Regions from separate parts of the Homo sapiens genome. Here all the other regions are linked to region 1. Evidence: fine-mapped expression QTL. A gene starts in region 1. Each other region holds a variant in brackets. All regions are shown on one strand. Distances are between the middles of the regions. Region 1 holds the start of CHMP1A (charged multivesicular body protein 1A). Region 2 overlaps DPEP1 (dipeptidase 1). Region 3 overlaps DPEP1 (dipeptidase 1). Region 4 overlaps ZNF276 (zinc finger protein 276).

Region 1 (5,141 bases):
GCCTGTCAGTGCAGGCGTGGTCAAGGCCAAGTTCAACCTGTCATCTATCAGTTCAGGTGTGGTCACGGCCAAGGTTATCTGTGACTGGAAAACAGCCAGCCTGACCCAGATGGCACAGTGCAGGCCAGGCGGGCCGTCCCACCCAACTCACTGTGGGATGCTGGCCAAACCGCCCTCCTCATCTCAGCTTTCCCTCACCTCAGCTTTCCCTCACCTCAGCTTTCCCTCACCTCAGCTTTCCCTCACCTCAGCTCTCCTCACCTCAGCTTTCCTCACCTCAGCTTTCCCTCACCTCAGCTTTCCTCACCTCAGCTTTCTCTTCCAGCCGTGTGTGGCAGCACAAAAACCCAGCTAAGGCAAAATCTGACTCTGAGGAAATCTGACATGGGCTTGAGAGAAGTCCCCTCAAAAGAGTTGAGTGAGCTGTGGAGTGAAAAGCCACAATTTTTCTTTTTTTTTTTTGAGACGGAGTCTCACTCTATCACCCAGGCTAGAGTGCAACGGCACCATCTTGGCTCACTGCAACCTCTGCCTCCCAGGTTTAAGCGATTCTCCTGTCTCAGCCTCCCAAGTAGTTAGAATTACACGTGCACGCCACCAGGCCCAGCTAATTTTTGTATTTTTAGAAGAGACGGGGTTTCACCATGTTGGCCAGGCTGGTCTCAAACTCCTGACCTCAGGTGATCAACCAACCTCGGCCTCCCAAAGTGTTGGGGTTACAGGCGTGAGCCACCACATCCGGCCTCCCAAAGTGCTGGAATTACAGCCGTGAGCCACCGCGCCCGGCCTCCCAGAGTGCTGGGGTTACAGGCCTGAGCCACCACACCCGGCCTGGCCAGCATATTTTTTGTGGCGGGAGGTAGATGTTATCTTTCATCTTCTCTCAGGGCAGAAAATCTCTACACATTTCCTTCATGATGATGACACGGTGGTACTATAGCTTTTCACACTTCTAACTAAAAGAATTTTTTTTGAGACGGAGTCTCGCTCTGTCGCCCAGGCTGGAGTGAAGTGGCGCGATCTCGGCTCACTGCAAGCTCCGCCTCCCGGGTTCACGCCATTCTCCTGCCTCAGCCTCCCGAGTAGCTGGGACTACAGGCACCCGCCACCACGCCTGGCTAATATTTTTGTATTTCTAGTAGAGATGGGGTTTCACTGTGTTAGCCAGGATGGTCTCGATCTCCTGACCTTGCGATCCGCCGGCCTCGGCCTCCCAAAGTGCTGGGATTACAGGCGTGAGCCACCGCGCCCAGCCCTTCAAAAAGTATTTTTAAAAGCCTGCCCATCACACCAGCCCAACGATGTTTCAGCAAACATAGGACTTCATTTTGCCAGATTCTTCCTGTTCTTTGGTATCCCTGAGCACACAGCCGGCTAGCCCCAGATGTAGAAGGTAAGAATTAGGGCGACCCATTGAGCACAGAAACGCTTGTGCTGGCTCCTGCTCAAACCTCTGCTTCCCCACATGGAGAATGGACGCAAAGAGCTGCTGTGACCAGGGCCTGGCACTCAGGGAGCGCTTTCTGTCTGAGTCCTTCTGATTTGCAGTGATGCTGTTTGGGGCAGGGGGTGCAACTGTCACTTTTTCTGGTGCCCTCTGACCCGACATTCCAAGTCCCGAAAGGCCGAACAGGCATCGCACAGTCCCCCCTACCGAGCTGGCGGGAAAGGGCGCCTGACGCTGAGGAGTGCCAGGGGCGGGGGAAAGGGTCCTGGGTCGGTGGTCGGGGGTCCAGGCCCTGGGCAAGGGGTCCTGGGTCGGGAGTCTAGGTCCCGGGTCCATGGTTGGGGGTCAGAGGTCGAGGCCCCGGGGAAGGCATACCGGGTTGAGATTTGGGGATGGAGGCCCCGGGGAAGGGGTCCCGAATCGGGGGTCGGGGATCGAGGCCTGGGGGGAGGGGTCCCGGGTCGAGGGTCGAGGCCCGGGGTAAAGGATCTCGGGTTGGGGGTCGGGGGCCTGGGAAGGGTCCCGGTCGGTGGTCGGGGGTCGAGGCCCGGGAGAAGGGGTCCCGGGTCGGTGGTAGAGGCCCTGGGGAAGGGGTTCCGGGTCGGGGATCGAGGGTCGAGGCCCGGGAAAAGGGGTCCCGGGTTGGTGGTCTAGGCCCTGGGGAAGGGGTTCCGGGTCGGGTATCGGGGGACGAGGCTCGGGAAAAGGGGTCCCAGGTCGGTGGTCGAGGCCCTGGGGATGGGGTCCGGGTCGGGGATCGGGGGACGACGACCGGGAAAAGGGGTCCCAGGTCGGTGGTCGAGGCCCTGGGGATGGGGTCCCGGGGGATCGACGGTCGAGGCCCGAGCTCTCCTGAGTCCTGCCCGCGGCCCCAGGTGGGCGGAGCCCACGCCAGTGGGAGAAGCGGCCCCGCCCCGCGCGCGAGTCCCCGGAGGACGGCCGCGACCTCTTACCGTCCATGGCCACAATGACAGGAGCAGCACTCGGAGAGGGAGAAGGGACGCCAACTCCGGGCGGTGTCAGGTCCCGGCGGCGATCGAACCGACCAAGCTGCACCCGGCGGGGACTTCCGGGGTCGCCGCCCCACTTCCGGTCGCACGGGATGCTCTCGCGAGAGGATGGTGGCCGGTCCCGCCAGAGGGGCGGGGCGCGGCTGCGCGGCGCGCGGTCGCCATGGTGACGCACGCCGCTGGCGCGAGGACCTTTTGTGAGTCGCTCCCGGCTCCGCGGCCGCGGAGGTGTGGGGACCCGGGCTTGCGTCGGAGGGGGCGGTGGGCTCACCCATGGGCCTTTCCAAAAGCAAAGAGAAACCCAGGAAAGGTAAAGGAGGCGCAGGCGCTGGGCTCCCCGCGTCTCCGCCCCTGGGCGCGGGCCCAGGGCGGGGCTGGGCTGGGCGGGGCGGTGTGAGCGCAGGCGCCAGGCTCGGCCCGGTGCGAACCGTTCCTGCCGCCGAGTCCGCCACGGACGGCGCGTTTCCCGCCTGAGGCGGTTACGGAAACGCGGAGACTCGAGACTTGAAGCCAGCTTATTCTGGACCCACGCAGGCGACTGAAGACGATGGGACCCACTGCCCTGCATTCGGTAAGTCCCGGGTCTAACGGATGATCCATATATTTCAGGTGAGGAGCAAAAGAAGGGATCCACCTATTCAGTTCCAAAATCTAAGGAGAAGTTGATGGAGAAGCATTCCCAGGAAGCCAGGCAGGCAGACAGGGAGTCGGAGAAGCCTGTGGACAGCCTCCACCCGGGGGCCGGGACAGCCAAGCACCCGCCGCCGGCAGCTTCGCTGGAAGGTAGGAGACGGCGGGAGGGAGCGAAGCGAGGTCAGTGGCTTGGAGGATCTGGGGCTGGGGTGAGGAGCCTACTGTAAGACCCTACCGGATGGACACTAGTAGCAGGCACGCGCCGTAAAGATGAAACTGGTTTGTTTTGGGAACTTTATGTAGGAGGTAAATATCCAGAAATCTTAGTTGAAAACATAAGTTTAATGAAAATGTAGGTCAGTTCCCGAGTGATAAGTGCGTACCAGGTGGTCGAGGGGCTGGGGCAGTGTGCGTGTGTCTCACCTGAGGTTCTCCTCGAGGGCTGGGTATCTTGGTGCCACTGAGAATCCCTGAGCCTCCGCACACTGGAACAGAGCATTGGGAGGCCGTCCCAGGCTGGACTGTAGCTCTCCGAGGGCTGTGGGGATAAGTACATTGCGGAGGGTGACCGAGGAGTAGAACCTGGGTGCGACAAAGGTGTCTTTTATAACAGCCTAGTGTGGCCAGACCTTTGGGTGTGTGTGGGGAAGATGAGGCCCCAAAAGTAGGAAGAAGCTAGAATACAAAGTTTTCCATCAGTTTTACCACGTGGAGCTGGAAGCGTTAAATATTTTAAACAACGGAGGTGCTGCCTGGGGCGGTAGTTCACACCTGTCCTCCCAGTTATTTGGCCGAGGCAGGAGGATCTTTTGAGCCCAGGAGTTCAAGACCAGCTTGGGCAACATAGTGAGACCCTGTCTCTACAAAAAATAAATATTTAAAAATAAAAAACAAGGGCGGCATGATGAGGTCTGTGCCTACCAACAGGGGAAGCCAGTTCGCAGGGGAGGTGGCCCGGTCAGAGACCCATTGCTGTGGCCCAGTGGGAGCCAGCAAGGCCTTGCAGTAGGAATTGCAGAAGGGTCAGGCAGGGAGAACCCGCAGAGCCTGCCGTCCGAGGAGATTGGGGGCCTGTGCCAGGAGGAGGTGTTTTAAGTTTCATCACAAGAATGAACCACTCGGCTGGGCGCAGTGGCTCACGCCTGTAATCCCAGCACTTTGGGAGGCCGAGGCGTGTGGATCACTTAAGGTCAGGAGTTCAAGACCAGCCTGGCCAACGTGGTGAAACCCTGTCTCTACTAAAAATACAAAAATTAGCTGGGCGTGGTGGCATGTGCCTGTAATCCCAGCTACTCAGGAGGCTGAGGCAGGAGAATTGCTCGAACCTTGAACCGGGACCCGGGAGGCAGAAGTAGTGGTGAGCGAGATCGCACCACTGCACTCCAGCCTGGGCTACAGAGTGAGACTCTGTCTCAGAAAAAAAAAAAAATAATAAGGAGAGAACCACTCGGGTCAGACAAGAAAGAATGTCAGGGGGATGACTGGCCTGCTAGGCAGAGGAGCTGGGCCTGGACTGCTTCACACTGACACGCTTGTAGGATCAAGGGCTGAAAGTAGGAGGCTCTGGGCCTTGGACTTGGAAGAAAGACTTGGATTTGAATTCCCAACTTTGGAACCTCCCACTGGAGGGTGGAACCCCTCACAGGAGGGCGCAACCCCCCACCGGAGGATGGAACCCTGCAGGAATAGCATCACCCTTGGGTGGCAGTTTGGAAAATGCTACCTGTCTGTCACGGTGCTTTTAGCTGAAAGTTACAGAAAAGCTCACTAAACGCAGCTTTAACACAGGGATTTAATGTCTCACGAATGAAGGGTCAGAGGTGGAGCTTCCAGGTTGGCTTGTTAGCACAACAGTGACATCAAAGACTTTGCGTGTCTCTTCTTGACCACTCTCAGTGTCCACAGCCCCCGATGAGTGTACAGCCCCCCACACGCAGGCAGGACTGCATCTACTGCAAAGGCATTGCTCCTTGCTTCATATTAGCAAGGAAACCTTTCCCAGGAAGGCTTCGCCTGCCCAGCCTCTGCAGGACTCATTCAATGGTGCAAAT
Region 2 (5,141 bases), 32 kb before region 1:
TACGGCACGGCCCACCTTGCTGTTGCTTTATTTTTAAATATGAAATTTGTAGTGACAAAGATTGCCCGCTGCCAAGGGAAGTCTGCAAACCCAACAGAAGGTCCAGATGAACAATGGGAGACGCGTCTGCATTCCGTTTGGTAAACCTCAGAAGAGAACAGAGTGTAGCTGAGTCCAAGCAGATCTGCTTCCCTGACGGGAGCGGGGCGGAAAAGAACACAGCAAACCTTGGAAACCGCCCTCCGGAGACCAGACGCACAACCCCCAAGAAAACACGAAAGAACCGTGCTGGGAGACAAAACAGAGGAAATGGAGTGCACAGGATAAGCAGGAAGAAAGCCAGGACAGGAGGCAGAAAGGAAGCTCAGACAGTGCAACCCCTGCCTGAAACCCTGGCCAGACGGAGCTCAGAAAGGAGGGGAAGAAGAGGGATACGGGCGACTGGAAATTCCCTGGACCGGAGGCAGAGGAAACGCTCCAGGGAGTGAAAAAGCCTCACACTAAAGCACGTGGCTGAGAAGTCGTGGCGCTCCGAGGAAAGAGGCAGCTCCAGGCCTGGAGGGAACAGCGGTTGCCCACACACAGCCGGGCCCATCCACCACACATGCACAGACGGACTGTGGTGCGGTCACCTCCTGAGGGACAAAGGTTTCCCGCCCAAAGTGCACATCCAGAGAAACTACTGATGAGGGCAGAATAAAGACAGACAGGAGGACTGGGGAGTGAATTCCTGCCGACCCGCTGCTAGGGAATGGTTGCAGGGCCAACTCTAATGGAATAGGGTTTAGTCTGCTTTGCATTGCTCCAAAGAAATCCCCGAGGCTGGGTCATCTATAGAGAAAAGGGGTGGGTTTGGCTCATGGTTGTGGAGGCTGAATGGGAAGCGTGGCACCAGCGTCTGCCTTTGGTGAGGACCCCAGGGAACCTCTCATCACGGCAGAAGGGGAGGGAGCAGGTGTCACTGGAAGGATGGCCTGGACCGTAATAGTCCATGTCCTCGGCGTTTGAACAAAGAAGTGGACAAAACGTGCAAAGTAACGAACAAAACACGGAAAGAAAGCAGCGAAAGCAGGGATTTATTAAAGCGAGAAAGGTCGGGAGTGGGGTGAGAGGGGCGCTGTTACATAGTTTTCTGGGGTTTGTTTTTTTTTTGTTTTGAGAGGGAGTCTCACACCGTCGCCCGGGCTGGAGTGCAGTGGCGCCATCTCGGCTCACTGCAACCTCTGCCTCCCAGGTTCAAGCGATTCTCCAGCCTCAGCCTCCGGAGTAGCTGGGATGACAGGCGCCCGCAACCACGCCCGGCTAATTTTTGTGTTTTTAGTTGAGACGGGGTTTTTCTTTGTTGGCCAGGCTGGTCTTGAACTCCCGGCCTCAGGTGATACACCCGCCGCACTCTCCCAAAGTGCTGGGATGACAGGTGTGAGCCACCCCCTCGGCCAGTTTTCTGGGTCTTAAGGGCACCTTTCATGGTTCCTATACCTCTTATCTGGATGAAAGATTTGGTCCGTGGCTAATCAAAGGCTGAGGTAAACTGGTGTCTGCAGATGAAAGGGTGGCCCGCAGCCAGTCCACAGCACTTTCCTTTCCATCTGGGACATGGTGGTGGGGGCTGTACGAGAGCAGCCTTTGATCCTTTGCTACTGGGCGTGGGGCTCTTCCTCAGGGTGTAGTTTTTGGAAGTTGGTGTTAATTGGCCCTGGGTTCCCTGCCCCAGACCTTGAAGTTTTTCCTGGATTCAGCGTGCTTTGGCCTCGGACTCTCTCCCCCTGACCTTGGTGTTTTCTCTTTTAGGAAGTCAGCACAAATTAGCGTCCCATTCCCTGCCCCAGGCCTCGCTGTTTTTCCTTGATTCAGCACGAATTGGCCTAAGTTCCCTGCCCCCAGACCCTATTCTCCTGCTCCCAGGGCATCACGTGCAGAGAGGGAGGCAGAGAGTGAGGGGGGAGGTACCAGGCTCGTTTTAACCGTCAGTTCTCTTCCCAACGAACTCATTACCTCCAGAACTGCACCAAGCCATTGATGAGGGGCCCGTCCCCATGACACAAAACCTCCCAACTGGGATCCAGTTTCCACGTGAGATCTGGACAAACATTCAAACTCTATCAGGACTATAAACCAAACAAAGGTGGAAGACCTTCAGTGCAGGCATTAAGTGAGCACTGACATTCCAGGCTGGGAGTAGCAGGTTGGACGAGGGGAGGCTCTGGGGGCAGGGAGGGAGGTTGCAGAGTCCAGAGCTTGGAAGATGGAAGATAAGGGCACCCAGTGTAGGGCAGGAGAAGAAAGGCAACTGGAAACTCTGGGACAAACTATAAAACCCCACGGAAAAGACAGGTGTAAGGTGACTACCTTGATCCGAGGGTGATCTGAGTGGCTGGTACCTTTGTGCTCACAGCAGGACTGTCGTAAAGTAGGTACATCCATGACTTCTACTTGACAGACGAAGAGACTGAGGCCGAGAAATTGAACCAGCTCACCCACGCTGCCCTTGAACAGTGGTCGTGAGAGGGGAACCCACAGCCTACCAGGACACGGGGCCCTGCCCAACCCCCAGGACGCCCTCGTGTTGAATTAAGTCCGTGGCTTTGAGCCTCAGAAACGGTGCAAAATGCAGTCCACGCGTGGCTTTCGGCCCCGGTCTGGTGCTCGGAAGACATGTGCCTCCCTCTACCTGCCCCCCGTCCTCCCGCCACTGTGAGGCCCTGAGAGGCCCTGAGATTCTTGCGATGTGTGAATAAGGGTGCCGCATTTTCATGTTGCACTGGGCACTGAATGGTGGAGCTGAGTGATGCGGTTTGGTTCTGTGTCCCCACCCAAATCTCATCTCAGATTATAATCCCCACCTGTCAAGGGAGAGACCCGCTGGAGGTGAGTGCATCGTGGGGCCATTCACCCCATGTTCTCGTGGTAGCGAGAAAGTTCTCACAAGATCTGTTTGTTGTTGTTTTTGTTGGTGGTGGTGGTTTTTAAGACGGAGTTTCACTCTTGTTGCCCAAGCTGGCTGGAGTGCAGTGGCACAATCTTGGCTCCCCGCAACCTCCACCTCCCGGGTTCAAGCAATTCTCCTGCCTCAGCCTCCCGAGTAGCTGGGATTACAGGTATGAGCCACCGCGCCTGGCTAATTTTGTATTATTAGTAGAGATGGGGTTTCTCCATGTTGGTCAGGCTGGTCTCGAACTCCGGACCTCAGGTGATCCACCCGCCTCGGCCTCCCAAAGTGCTTGGATCACG[C/T]GGTGGCGTGCGCCACCGCACCCAGCCTAAGATCTGGTTTTTAAAAGTGTTTGGCAGTCCCCCCCTCAAACTCTCTCCCCCGCTGCCATTTAAGACATGCCTTGCCTCCCTTTGCCTTCGGCCATGATTGTAATTTTCCTGAGGCCTCCCCAGCCATGTGGAACTGTGAGTCAATGAAGGCTTTTTTCCTTTAAAAATTACCCAGTCTTGGCCAGGCGCGGTGGCTCATGCCTGTAATCCCAACAGCTTGGGAGGCCGAGGCGGGTGGATCACTTGGGGTCAGGAGTTTGAGACCACCCTGGCCAACATGGTGAAACTGTCTGTAGTAAAAATAAAAAATTAGTCAGACGTGGGGCCAGGTATGGTGGCTCACACCTGTAATCCCAACACTTTGGGAGGCCGAGGCGGGCGGATCACGAGGTCAGGAGATCGAGACCATCCTGGCTAAAACGGTGAAAACTTGTCTCTACTAAAAAAAAAGAAAAAAAAGAAAAAAATTAGCCGGGCGTGGTGGCGGGCGCCTGTAGTCCCAGCTTCTCTGGAGACTGAGGCAGGAGAATGGCATGAACCCGGGAGGCAGAGCTTGCAGTGAGCTGAGGTTGCGCCACTGCACTCCAGCCTGGGCAATAGAGTGAGACTCCGTCTCAAAAAAAAAAAAAAAAAGTCAGATGTGGGATCAGGCATGGTGGCTCACACCTGTAATCCCAGCACTGTGGGAGGCCGAGGAGGGCACATTATTTTAGGTCAGGAGTTCAAGACCAGCCTGACCAACATGATGAAACCCTGTCTCTACTAAAAATACAAAAAAAATTAGCTGGGTGTGGTGTGCGCCTGTAATCCCAGCTACTCCGGAGGCCGAGGCATGAGAATCAGTTGAGGCAGAGGTTGCCGTGAGCCGAGATTGTGCCACCGCACTCCAGCCTGGGTGACCTACTGAGACTCTGTCTCAGAGAGAGAGAGAGGAAGGAGGGGAGGGGAGAAGAGGGAAAGGAAGGGCAGGGGAACCCAGTCTTGGATATTTCTTCTTTTTTTTTTTTTTTTTTTTTTTTTTTGAAACGGAGTCTTGCTCTGCCACCCAGGCTGGAGTACAGTGTTGCAATCTCGGCTCACTGCAACCTCCGCCTCCCTGGTTCAAGTGATTCTCCTCCAAAAGCCTCCAAGTAGCTGGGATTACGGGCAAGGGCCACCATGCCCAGTAAATTTTTGTATTTTTAGTAGAGAAGGGGTTTCACCATGTTGGTCAGGCTGGTCTCAAACTCCTAACCTCGTGATCCTCCTGCCTTGGCCTCCCAAAGGGTATTTTTGTTTGTTTTTGAGACGGAGTCTCGCTCTTTCGCCCAGGCGGGAGTGCAGTGGTGCAATCTCGGCTCACTGCAAGCTCTGCCTCCCGGGTTCATGCCATTCTCCTGCCTCAGCCTCCCAAGTAGCTGGGACTCCAGGCACCCGCCACCATGCCCGGCTAATTTTTTTTATTTTTGGTAGAGACGGGGTTTCACCATGTTAGCCAGGATGGTCTCGATCTCCTGACCTGGTGATCCACCCGCCTCGGCCTCCCACAGTGCTGGGATTACAGGCGTGAGCCACCACACCCGGCCACAAAAGGTATTTCTTTCTTTCTTTCTTTTCTTTCTTTTTTTTTTTTTTTTGTGAGATAGAGATTTACTCTTGTCGCCCAGGCTGGAGTGCAATGGCGCGATCACAGCTCATGGCATCCTCCACCTCCCGGATTCAAGCGATTCTCCTGCCTCAGCCTCCCGAGTAGCTGGGATTACAGGCATGCACCACCATGCCTGGCTAATTTTTGTATTTTTAGTAGAGACGGGGTTTCACCATGTTGCCCAGGCTGATCTCGAACTCCTGACCTCAGGTGATCCGCCCGCCTCAGCCTCCCACAGTGCTGGGATTACAGG
Region 3 (5,141 bases), 25 kb before region 1:
CCTGGGTCTGGGATCCCAGCTTCTTACTATGCCTCCGCCTAGCCCAGACAGCAACGCCCAGTCATTGAGTGTCCGGCCTTCCATCCTACCCACCCTGGTGGGGAATGTGCTGGTTACTTATTGAACATGGGAAGCTATAAACAGGAGAGCAGCCACCTGTCATCACTTCCACCCACACCTCTGGTGCCTCTCCTGGCAGGCAGAGTGGCTCCTCACAGCCTGAAGCTCATCCTTCTGCACGGGCCAGCCAGGCCAGCACAGAGGCACCAGGGCAGCAGTGCACACAGGTCCCCGGGGACCCCACCATGTGGAGCGGATGGTGGCTGTGGCCCCTTGTGGCCGTCTGCACTGCAGACTTCTTTCGGGACGAGGCAGAGAGGATCATGAGGGACTCCCCTGTCATTGATGGGTGAGTGCTCACCTGAGCCAGGTGCTTAGGGAACCAGGACTGGGAACTGGGGCTGGGAGAGCGGGGCTGGGGGAGCCGGGGCTGGGGGAGCGGGGCTGGGGGAGCCAGGGCTGGGGGTGCCGGGGCTGGGGGTGCCGGGGCTGGGGGAGCCGGGGTTGGGGGTGCCGGGGCTGGGGGTGCCGGGGCTGGGGGAGCCGGGGCTGGGGGTGCCGGGGCTGGGGGTGCCGGGGCTGGGGGAGTTTGGCCTGGGGAGTTGGGGCTGGGGGAGCTGGGGGTGAGACTCGTGTGTGCTTGGCTTGGGGCTCAGTTTCTCTGGGGGTGAGACTCGTGTGCCCTTGGGTTGGGGCTCAGTTTCAGCTTCTGCGACGGTGCCGGGCCCTTGCCCTTTCCTGGCCCCTGCTGCTTTGTGGGGTCTCTCAGGGCCCCCAAAGACTTCAGCGGATGAAGGTCTGCAGGGACTGGGCAGGAAGGAGGCAAGGCCACACTCCCTGGTCCCGAAGCTCAGAGTGAGGTCTGAGCCTGCGGACGTGGAGGCCCTGCGCCCCAATCTCACCCTGTGCCTCAGCTTCTCCCAAAAGCAGCAGGTGCGGGTGGCACCCTACAGGCCCTCTCAGCCGGCATCTTTTTGGCTCTCTTCCCACTCCCCCCGGCCTGCCTTCTCCCGGGGGGAGGCCCATGCCACTTGGGCCCTTGCCTGTGCTGCGCTGTGTGCCCACCCGGCCCCCACCCCCGACCTCGCTGGGGCACCTGGGTCACCTGCTTCTGTCCTGACCTCCTCAGGGCGGAGATCCCCACTGCCCGGGAATCCGACCCTCTTCCCCGCCCCTTCCTGGCCCAGTGCCCCGACACTGGGTCACCATGGAGGCCTCCTGCTTCCAGGCACCAGACTCAGATCAGGGTCCACACTGGCTCCGCGTTGGGGTGGGAGGGTCACTGAGAGTCCGCCCTGTGTCTGGCATGGTGTCTCCACCTGGAAAATGCCTCTGGGCTTTGTTGGGGAAAAACTGTGAAAAAAGCAGGGAAACCCGATGTCTTGTCGCATAAGAACTTCAGGGAACAGTCCAGGCTGGGCAGTTCACGCCTGTAATCCCAGCACTTTGGGAGGCCGAGGCGGGCGGATCACCTGAGGTCAGGAGCTCAAGACCAGCCTGGCCAACATGGCGAAACCCTGTCTCTACTAAAAATACAAAAAATTAGCCAGGCATGGTGGCGCATGCCTGTAGTCCCAGATACTCAGGAGGCTGAGGCAGGAGAATCACTTGAACTCGGGAGGCGGAGGCTAGAGTGACCCAATATCGGGCCACTGTACTTCAGCCTGGGCAACAGAGTGAGACTCCATCTCAAATTAAAAAAACTTAAGAGAGCAGAGGCAGCTGCAGAAAGGGAGCAGAGGGTGGTCCCTGCATCCTCATGGTTTAAAATGGCCATGCCAGCTTCAGCCCTCACATCTGTATGCTGGCCAGCAGGGAGGAGGGAGACATAAAGAAGGGAAAAAGGACAAGCAGCAGGTGACTGTCAGGGTCAGGTTTTTGTTTTGTTTTGTTTTGAGACAGAGTCTCACTCTGTCACCTGTCACCCAGGCTGGAGTGCAGTGGCGTGATCTCAGCTCGCTGCAACCTCTGCCTCCTGGATTTAAGCAATTCTCCTGCCTCAGCCTCCTGAGTAGCTGGGATTACAGGCGCCCGCCACCAAGCCCGGCTAATTTTTTTGGTATTTTTAGTAGAGACAGGGTTTCACCATGTTGGCCAGGCTGGTCTCGAACTCCTGACCTCAGGTGATCCGCCCGCCTCGGCCTCCCACAGTGCTGGGATTCCAGGCGTGAGCCACCGCGCCCGGCCGGGGGTCACAGTTGTTAGAAGCTGTTACGGGA[C/T]CCACCTTCATCCCTTGGCCACCGCCAGCGACACAGGGGCAGGAAGTATCTTCAACCCAAATGGCTGTGTGCCCGCTAAAAACGGGGGGTTTTAAAGTCACAAAGGAAAAGGAGGAGAATGGATCCCGGGGGCAGCCAGCAGTCTCCCCACGAACAGCTGCCTGAGTGTGTGCTTGCCGCTTTTCCAGCACTTTCCAGCACTCCTTGGAGCAGGACGCCGGCTTCCATATCCCAGCTAAGGGCATTGCCCCAGCTGCACAGATAAGGAGGGTGGGTCTGATTAGCAGAACTGCCATTTGCCCTGGCCATGAGGCAGGCAGGGCCTCCCTCCCACTGAGAAACCAGAGGCCCCACCTTCCCATCGTTTTCTCCAGCAAGAGTGGAGAGGGCTGGCGGGGCACAGTGGCTCACAGGTGTGGTCCCAGCACTTTGGGAGACCGAGGTGGGAGGACTGCTTGAACCCAGAAGGTTGGGGGCTGCAGTGAGCTGTGATTGCACCCCTGCCCTCCAGCCTGGGCAACAGAGTGAGACCCTGTCTCAAAAAGAAAAAAGAAAGGAGGGGCTGCAGGAGGAGGAGGGAGGGGAGAGCAGAGAGCTGCCCCATTGCAGCCTGTCCCTCCAAGGGCGGCTCCTGGGGTCCTAGGAATCCCTACCCATCCCAGGCTAATGTCTGAGATGGGCCGCCTGCGTCCTCAGGCCAAGGAGTAAAGTCTCCTGGGAGCCCTGCCCAGCCCCACCCAGGACAGTGCCCAGTGTAGGGTTGCACCTAGCGATGAGGCTGCTGCCCGGGCAGGGTCCCTGGCTGGAGCTCATGGTTCCCTCAGCAAGTGCGTCCTGACCACCCACTCTGCTCCGAGGGCTGGGGAGAGGCCCGTGCCAGCCCAGGCTGTCATGTGGACTCGCTGTGGCCAGGGACAACCTCGCTGACGCAGGAGCTTTGGGAGAGACTCACACCAGCATCAGGCGTGCGCCCGCCCATCTGCCCAGGGGTGGGGCCGGAAAGCGTGCCAGGCTGGGCTTGGGGGCACTAGCCCAGGGGAGGTCAGGAACGACTGGGACCCAGGAAGGGCAGAGCCCTCCCCTTCTTTCCCCTGAGGAGCTCCATGGGTGCATTCGCCTTGGAAAAGCTCATTGCGGGCACATAGATTTGAGCTGGGTCACAGAAAGCAGAGCCCGCAGCTGGAAATGATTAACAGTTACTCATCTGCCTCTCCCAGCTGCCCTCCAAGGAAAGCACCAAGACACCCTCATGTTACAGATGGGGAAACTGAGACACAGAGGGAGCTGTCCTCAAGGAGAGCACCAAAACACCCTCATGTTACAGATGGGGAAACTGAGACACAGAGGGAGCTGTCCTCCAAGGAAGGCACCAAGACACCCTCATGTTACAGATGGGGAAACTGAGGCACAGGGATGGGTCTGGAAACTGCAAGTGGAGGGGCCCCTGTGGCCTCATCCCAGCGCACACCCTCACAAGGCAGTCCCCCCGAGACAGGGGCACAGCCCACATTACAGGAAGGAGACTGAGGCCCCAGACCCAGTGACGGGGAAGGGGAACCCTGGGCATTCCCCAGGGTCGGGGGTCAGGCCTCAGCCCCTTCCCATCCTCCTCACAGCCTGGTTGAAACACAGATGAGATCGTAGCCTAGAGCCTGCCCTGGGCCCCTTAGAGCTGCATTTCTATTTTTCTTTTCTCTTCTCTTCTTCTTTTTTTTTTTTTTTTGGAGGGAGTCTCGCTCTGTCGCCCAGGCTGGAGTGCAGTGGTGCGATCTCGGCTCACTGCAAGCTCTGCCTCCTGGGTTCCTGCCATTGTCCTGCCTCAGCCTCTTGAGTAGCTGGGACTACAGGCACCCGCCACCACTCCCGGCTAATTTTTGTATTTTTAGTAGAGACGGGGTTTCACCATGTTAGCCAGGATGATCTCGATCTCCTGACCTTGTGATCTGCCCACCTCGGCCTCCCAAAGTGCTGGGATTACAGGCATGAGCCACCCTGCCTGGCCTGAGAATTGCATTCCTAACGACAGTGGATTCCCTTTGCTCCTGGTCTCTGCCAGGCCCTGTTGGGCAGCTGGATTCGGACCCTCTGGGATCCTCACTCAGCCACCAGCTCTGACAGCCCCAGCTCCCCCTTCCTCTGCGTTCCCCTTCCTTCTCCTTTCCCCTTCCTTCTCCTTTCCCTTCCTTCTCCTTTCCCCTTCCTTCTCCTTTCCCTTCCTTCTCCTTTCCCCTTCCTTCTCCTTTCCCTTCCTTCCCTTTCCCTTCCTTCCCTTTCCCCTTCCTTCCCTTTCCCCTTCCTTCTCCTTTCCCTTCCTTCCCTTTCCCTTCCTTCCCTTTCCCTTCCTTCTCCTTTCCCCTTCCTTCTCCTTTCCCTTCCTTCTCCTTTCCCTTCCTTCTCCTTTCCCTTCCTTCTCCTTTCCCCTTCCTTCCCTTTCCCCTTCCTTCTCCTTTCCCTTCCTTCTCCTTTCCCTTCCTTCTCCTTTCCCTTCCTTCCCTTTCCCTTCCTTCTCCTTTCCCTTCCTTCCCTTTCCCCTTCCTTCCCTTTCCCTTCCTTCTCCTTTCCCTTCCTTCTCCTTTCCCTTCCTTCTCCTTTCCCTTCCTTCTCCTTTCCCTTCCTTCTCCTTTCCCTTCCTTCTCCTTTCCCCTTCCTTCCCTTTCCCTTCCTTCTCCTTTCCCTTCCTTCTCCTTTCCCTTCCTTCTCCTTTCCCTTCCTTCTCCTTTCCCTTCCTTCTCCTTTCCCTTCCTTCTCCTTTCCCTTCCTTCTCCTTTCCCCTTCCTTCCCTTTCCCTTCCTTCTCCTTTCCCCTTCCTTCTCCTTTCCCCTTCCTTCTCCTTTCCCCTTCCTTCTCATTTTTCCTCACGAG
Region 4 (5,141 bases), 76 kb after region 1:
CCCAGGGTGCTGGGACTGCCAACATGAGCCACTGGACTCGGCAGTGTAAACTACTTTTTTCATGCTATTGCATATGTATTGTTCATTGATAATATATAGAAACATAACTGGGTTTTGTGTATGGATTTTGTGCCCTGCAACTTTGCTGAAATAATTAATTAGGGTTTTTTGTATGTGGATCTTTAGGGTTTTCTACGTAGAAGGTCGTGTCATTTGTGAATAGGGAGAATTTGTCTTTGTTTTCTTTTTCTTGCCCAGTTACTCTGGCTAGGGCCTCCAGTGCTGCCCTGAGAGCAGTGGTGAGAGAATCCGTATCTTGTTCCTGACCTTGGAGGAAGAGCTTTCAGTCCTTCACAGTTGAGCGTGGTGTCTGCTGTGGGTTTCATGTAGAGGTTTTATCGTGGTGAAGAAGTTCCTTTCTGTTCTTGAGATATTTCCTTAACTATTCTTACCTGGATCCAGAAAGGAACCACAAGTGCGTCTCTCTCTTTAAGTCTCCGATAGACGCACACTGGAAGCTGCTGCATTTGCTGGTCCCTCAGGGACTTGCCAGACCAACTAAAATGCACGACCCCAGACTTTTGGAGGACAAGGTCTCCTGCCCACCATGGTCCCAGCCAGCAGCTCCAGGAACACAGGCTGGGCTCCCTGCAGTGGAGGCGGGGTTGAGGAATGCTGGGGTGGCAGCTACTCACCGTGTGCTTCCCAGGGAGCATCACCTGTTCCTCTGAAGCCCTGCCTGGGTGGCTTGAGCTTGGAATCAAGCTGACCCATTTTGAGAGAGTGGATTCTGAGCTTTTTCCTAGCGTAAGGTCGTTTTGATAAAGGAGTGGTCCTTTGGACATCCCTGTTCTGCCGTCCTGATACCTCTAGTTGTGGGTTTTATGTGTAGCACAGGGTGAAGCTTTAGTTCTCAGAACCCACCCCTGCTGTACCCTGTGCCCTCGCCCTCCGCTGTGTTTGCCCTGACCCTCCTGTACCCTGCGTCCTCGCCCTCTGCTGTGCTCACCCGACCCTGCTGTACCCTGCGCCCTCGTCCTCTGCCGTTTGCCCCTGACCCTGCTGTACCATGCCCTCGCCCTCTGCTGTGTTCACCCTGACCCTGCTGTACCCTGCGCCCTCACCCTCTGCTGTGTTCACCTGACCCTGCTGTGTCCTGCGCCCTTGCCCTCTGCTGTGCTCGCCCTGACCCTGCTGTACCCCGCTGTACCCTGCGCCCTCGCCCTCTGCTGTGTTCACCCCGACCCTGCTGTACCCTGCGCCCTCATCCTCTGCTGTGCCCTCCCCCTCTGCTGTGTTCGCCCTGACCCTGCTGTACCCTGCGCCCTCGCCCTCTGCTGTGTTTGCCCTGACCCTGCTGTACCCTGCGCCCTCGCCCTCTGCTGTGTTCACCCCTGACCCTGCTGTGTCCTGCGCCCTTGCCCTCTGCTGTGCTCGCCCCTGAGGCCTCCTGTCCAGAGTTGCTCTGGCTTTGGTGGCTTCAGGTAGATTCTGAGGGTCAGTCAGCACAGAAGCAACTCAGGGAAGCTTCAGAAAAGACCATTTCTCAGGTTGGAGAGACAAAAAACATTTTGCAAATGGAGATCAGAAACCATTGAATTTGGGAACCTCTTTTTTTCAGAGTCTCTGGTAAGAAGAGTGAAAGCAAAGAAGCCAAGAAGTCTGAAGAACCAAGAATTCGGAAGAAGCCGGGACCCAAGCCCGGATGGAAGAAGAAGCTTCGTTGTGAGAGGTGATGCCTGCAACGCGAGGCTCGCCCTGCCTGTCGGGGCCGGGGCTCCATGCATGCTCTTCATTGCAGGGAGGAGCTTCCCACCATCTACAAGTGTCCTTACCAGGGCTGCACGGCCGTGTACCGAGGCGCTGACGGCATGAAGGTGAGCACTGGCTGTGCCTGACCCAGGCCCGGCAGCTGTCAGTGTGAACCTGGGGGAGGTAGCAGGTGTTTCTGCAGCCTAACTCAGACTTGCGCCCAAGGACACTTTGACCTAGGTTAACCGAGACCTGAAGCAGTCCTAGCCAGTGCCATCCTTGGGGGTAGATGTGAGGCCAGACTTTCACTTGAGACACCCCCCGGGGGGTCTAGAAGTTTCTTGGAGTGAAGCTGTGAAGGAGCCAGTGGTGTCGCTGGAGGAGGAGTTGGATCTGCCTTCCAGGGGCCTCAGCTGTCACCTACTGAGGGCTCGTGCCATGTGGCCCGGGTGCGGCTCTGAGGGTCTCTCACCGAGTCTCTCCTTCAGAAGCACATCAAGGAGCACCACGAGGAGGTCCGGGAGCGGCCCTGCCCCCACCCTGGCTGCAACAAGGTTTTCATGATCGACCGCTACCTGCAGCGCCACGTGAAGCTCATCCACACAGGTACGCCTATC[G/A]CCAGTGTCGCCCACGCGGGTGACAGCCAGGGGCACGTGACCTGCTTTCCAGTCTTCCTCATACCCATCCCCGCCCCAAGAGTTGGGGGTGCGTGAAGGTGGCTCATGGGGTCTTTGGTACTCAGTCACGTTGGTAGATGAAGGCTAGAGTAGGGCGTCAGTGTGAATCTGCCCTTCCCTGTGATGGAAGGAATTCCTGACTTCCCCAGGATCTAGGCAGTTTGTCAAAACTAATAGCCAAGCAATCTTGGTGTCCTTTTGCAAATTGGTCATTTTATTTTTTAATTTTTTTTTGAGACGGAGTCCTGCTCTGTTGCCCAGGCTGGAGTGCAGTGGCACCATCTTGGCTCACCACAACCTCTGCCTCCCAGGTTCAATCAATTCTCCCGCCTCAGCCTCCCAAGTAGCTGGGATTACAGGCACCCGCAACCATGCCTGGCTAATTTTTGTAATTTTTGGTAGAGACGGGGTTTCACCATGTTGGCCAGGGTGATCTCTAACTCCTGACCTCAAGTGATCTCAGCCTTCCAAAGTGCAGAGATTACAGGTGTGAGCACTGCACCTGGCCCAAACAAGTGTATCTTAAAAGGCAAGGCAGAAGGCATGAAGGCACACCAGCTCTGGGGAGCTGCCCACGTGGACAGGCGGGAGGCACGTGTGGTTCTGCCTTTTCACATGTGTGTAGGTCGTGTCATTAAGACCGGAGGCGGATGGGGGAATTATGACTGAGGGTGCTGTCTCTGTGCCCGTCTTATTTTTCACAATTTCTATAATGCACAAGTTACTTTTATAATCCAACAAGGATATGTTTTCAAAATGACAAACTTGGCCGGGCGTGGTGGCTCACACCTGTAATCCCAGCACTTTGGGAGGCTGAGGTGGGTGGATCACCTGAGGTCAGCAGTTCAAGACCAGCCTGGCCAACATGGTAAAACCTGGTCTCTACTAAAAATACAAAAATTATCTGGGTGTGGTGGCACACGCCTGTAGGCACAGCTACTTGGGAGGCGGAGGTGGAGGTTGCAGTGAGCCGAGATCACACCACTGCACTCCAGCCTGGGCAACAGTGAGACACTGTCTCAAAAAAAAAACTTGTTTGAACCACGTGGACCCACATATCCATGGTCAGGGACTCGAATCCCTGGTATTCAGAGGGCTGCCTTTTCCTAAGTGCAGGTTCTGTAGGGTCTTTGCAGGGCTAACTTCGGGACTTCAGTATGAGCAGATTTTGGTAAGGGGTGGGGGGGGGCCTGGAACCAGCTGAGGACAACTGTATATTGATCCTTACACACACAGTTTTCCTTGGTTTTGAACTTATTACAGAATAAGAATTATTTATTCTTACTTGAATTTACTGAAGTATTTTTTCATTAGGATTGCTTTTCACTGCTGGGTCATCTCCCGACATGCGGGTTGTTATTTTTTGGGTTCTCCGACATCTCTCCTGATGGCAGCACTTCCTTGGGTTTGGTCCTTCAGACTCTGCATCTGTCCGGTCACTGATGGTCACAACCAGCAGTTCCTTAAAAACCTGAAATTGGGCCGGGTGCAGTGGCTCATGCCTGTAATCGCAGCACTTTGGAGGCTAAGGCAGTAGGATTGCTTGAGGCCAGGATTTTGACACCAGCCTGGGCAACATAGTGAGGCCGTCTTTACCAAAAACTTTTTTTTTAATTTATTGATGGAAACAGTCTCACTCTTATCACCATGGCTGGAGTGCAGTGGCGCGATCTTGGCTCACTGTAACCTCCACCTCCCTAGTTCAAGCAATTCTCCTGTCTCAGCCTCCTGAGTAGCTGGGATTACAGGCATCTGCCACCACGCCGGGGGTGTTTTTTTTTGTTTGTTTGTTTGTTTTTTTGACTGAGTCTTGCTCTTGTCGCCCAGGCTGGGGTGCAGTGGCACAATCTCAGCTCACTGCAAGCTCCTCTTCCTGGGGTAAAGCCATTCTCCTGCCTCAGCCTCCCAAATAGCTGGGACTACAGGTGCTGGCCACCACACCCAACTAATTTTTCGTATTTTCAGTACAGACGGGGTTTCACCACGTTAGTGAGGCTGGTCTCAATCTCCTGACCTTGTGATCCACCTGCCTCGGCCTCCCGAAGTGCTGGGATTATAAGCGTGAGCCATGACGCCTGGGTAATTTTTCTATTTTTAGTAGAGAGGCAGGTTTTGCTATGTTGGCCAGGCTGGTCTCGAGTTCCTGACCTCAGGTGATTTGCCTGCCTTGGCCTCCCAAAGTGCTGGGATTACAGGCATGAGCCACCGTGCCCAGCCCCCAATTTTTTTTTTTTTTTCCGGGACAGTCTGTGTCGCCCAGCCTGGAGTGCAGCTGTGCAATCTCAGCTCACTGCAACCTCCACCTCCTGGGTTCATGCAATTCTGCTGCCTCAGCCTCCCGAGTAGCTGGGACTACAGGTGTGTGCCACCACACCTGGCTAATTTTTGTATTTTTAGTAGAGACAGGGTTTTACCATATTGATTGGGCTGGGGCTGGTCTTGAACTGACTTCATGATCCGCCTGCCTTGGCCTTCCAAAGTGCTGGGATTGAGCACTTTGTGTAAGCCACTGCACCGGCCCCCCAAATTTTTTAAATTACCTGGGTGTGGTGGTGCACACCTGTGGTCCCAGCTACTTGAGAGGTTGAGGCAGGAGGATCACTTAAGCCTGGGAGTTCCAGGCTATAGTGAGCCATGATTGTACCATTGCACTTCAACCTGGGCAACAGAGCAAGACCCTGTCTCCAAAAAAAAAAAAAAAAAAAGAATCCC

Evidence for each region. PIP is the estimated chance that this variant, and not a neighbour inherited with it, causes the effect.
Region 2: its variant is the best candidate, but not a certain one, in a credible set for the expression of CHMP1A in whole blood (INTERVAL, PIP 0.68).
Region 3: its variant is the best candidate, but not a certain one, in a credible set for the expression of CHMP1A in skeletal muscle (GTEx, PIP 0.85).
Region 4: its variant is the best candidate, but not a certain one, in a credible set for the expression of CHMP1A in whole blood (INTERVAL, PIP 0.56).

What each region holds. Positions count from the first base shown.
Region 1 is chr16:89,655,182-89,660,322 of GRCh38, forward strand. It overlaps CHMP1A (charged multivesicular body protein 1A), which reads right to left and starts at 2,527. Exons shown (of 7, transcript NM_002768.5): 1 at 2,401-2,527. The coding sequence starts at 2,407. It overlaps SPATA33 (spermatogenesis associated 33), which reads left to right and starts at 2,655. Exons shown (of 3, transcript NM_001271907.2): 1 at 2,655-2,767; 2 at 3,067-3,240. The coding sequence starts at 2,731. RefSeq lists silencers at 2,254-2,313, 2,534-2,923 and an enhancer at 2,639-2,808.
Region 2 is chr16:89,623,396-89,628,536 of GRCh38, forward strand. The region is part of intron 1 of DPEP1 (dipeptidase 1); the gene reads left to right. Among named protein-coding and RNA genes, the nearest start is that of DPEP1, 12 kb to the left of the region's middle. RefSeq lists enhancers at 97-969, 5,019-5,141. The variant C/T (reference allele first, on the strand shown) is at 3,232.
Region 3 is chr16:89,630,106-89,635,246 of GRCh38, forward strand. DPEP1 (dipeptidase 1) reads left to right here. Exons shown (of 11, transcript NM_001389466.1): 2 at 200-409. The coding sequence starts at 306. Among named protein-coding and RNA genes, the nearest start is that of DPEP1, 19 kb to the left of the region's middle. RefSeq lists an enhancer at 1,957-2,811. The variant C/T (reference allele first, on the strand shown) is at 2,280.
Region 4 is chr16:89,731,681-89,736,821 of GRCh38, forward strand. ZNF276 (zinc finger protein 276) reads left to right here. Exons shown (of 11, transcript NM_001113525.2): 7 at 1,622-1,732; 8 at 1,802-1,877; 9 at 2,241-2,358. Among named protein-coding and RNA genes, the nearest start is that of ZNF276, 13 kb to the left of the region's middle. The variant G/A (reference allele first, on the strand shown) is at 2,370.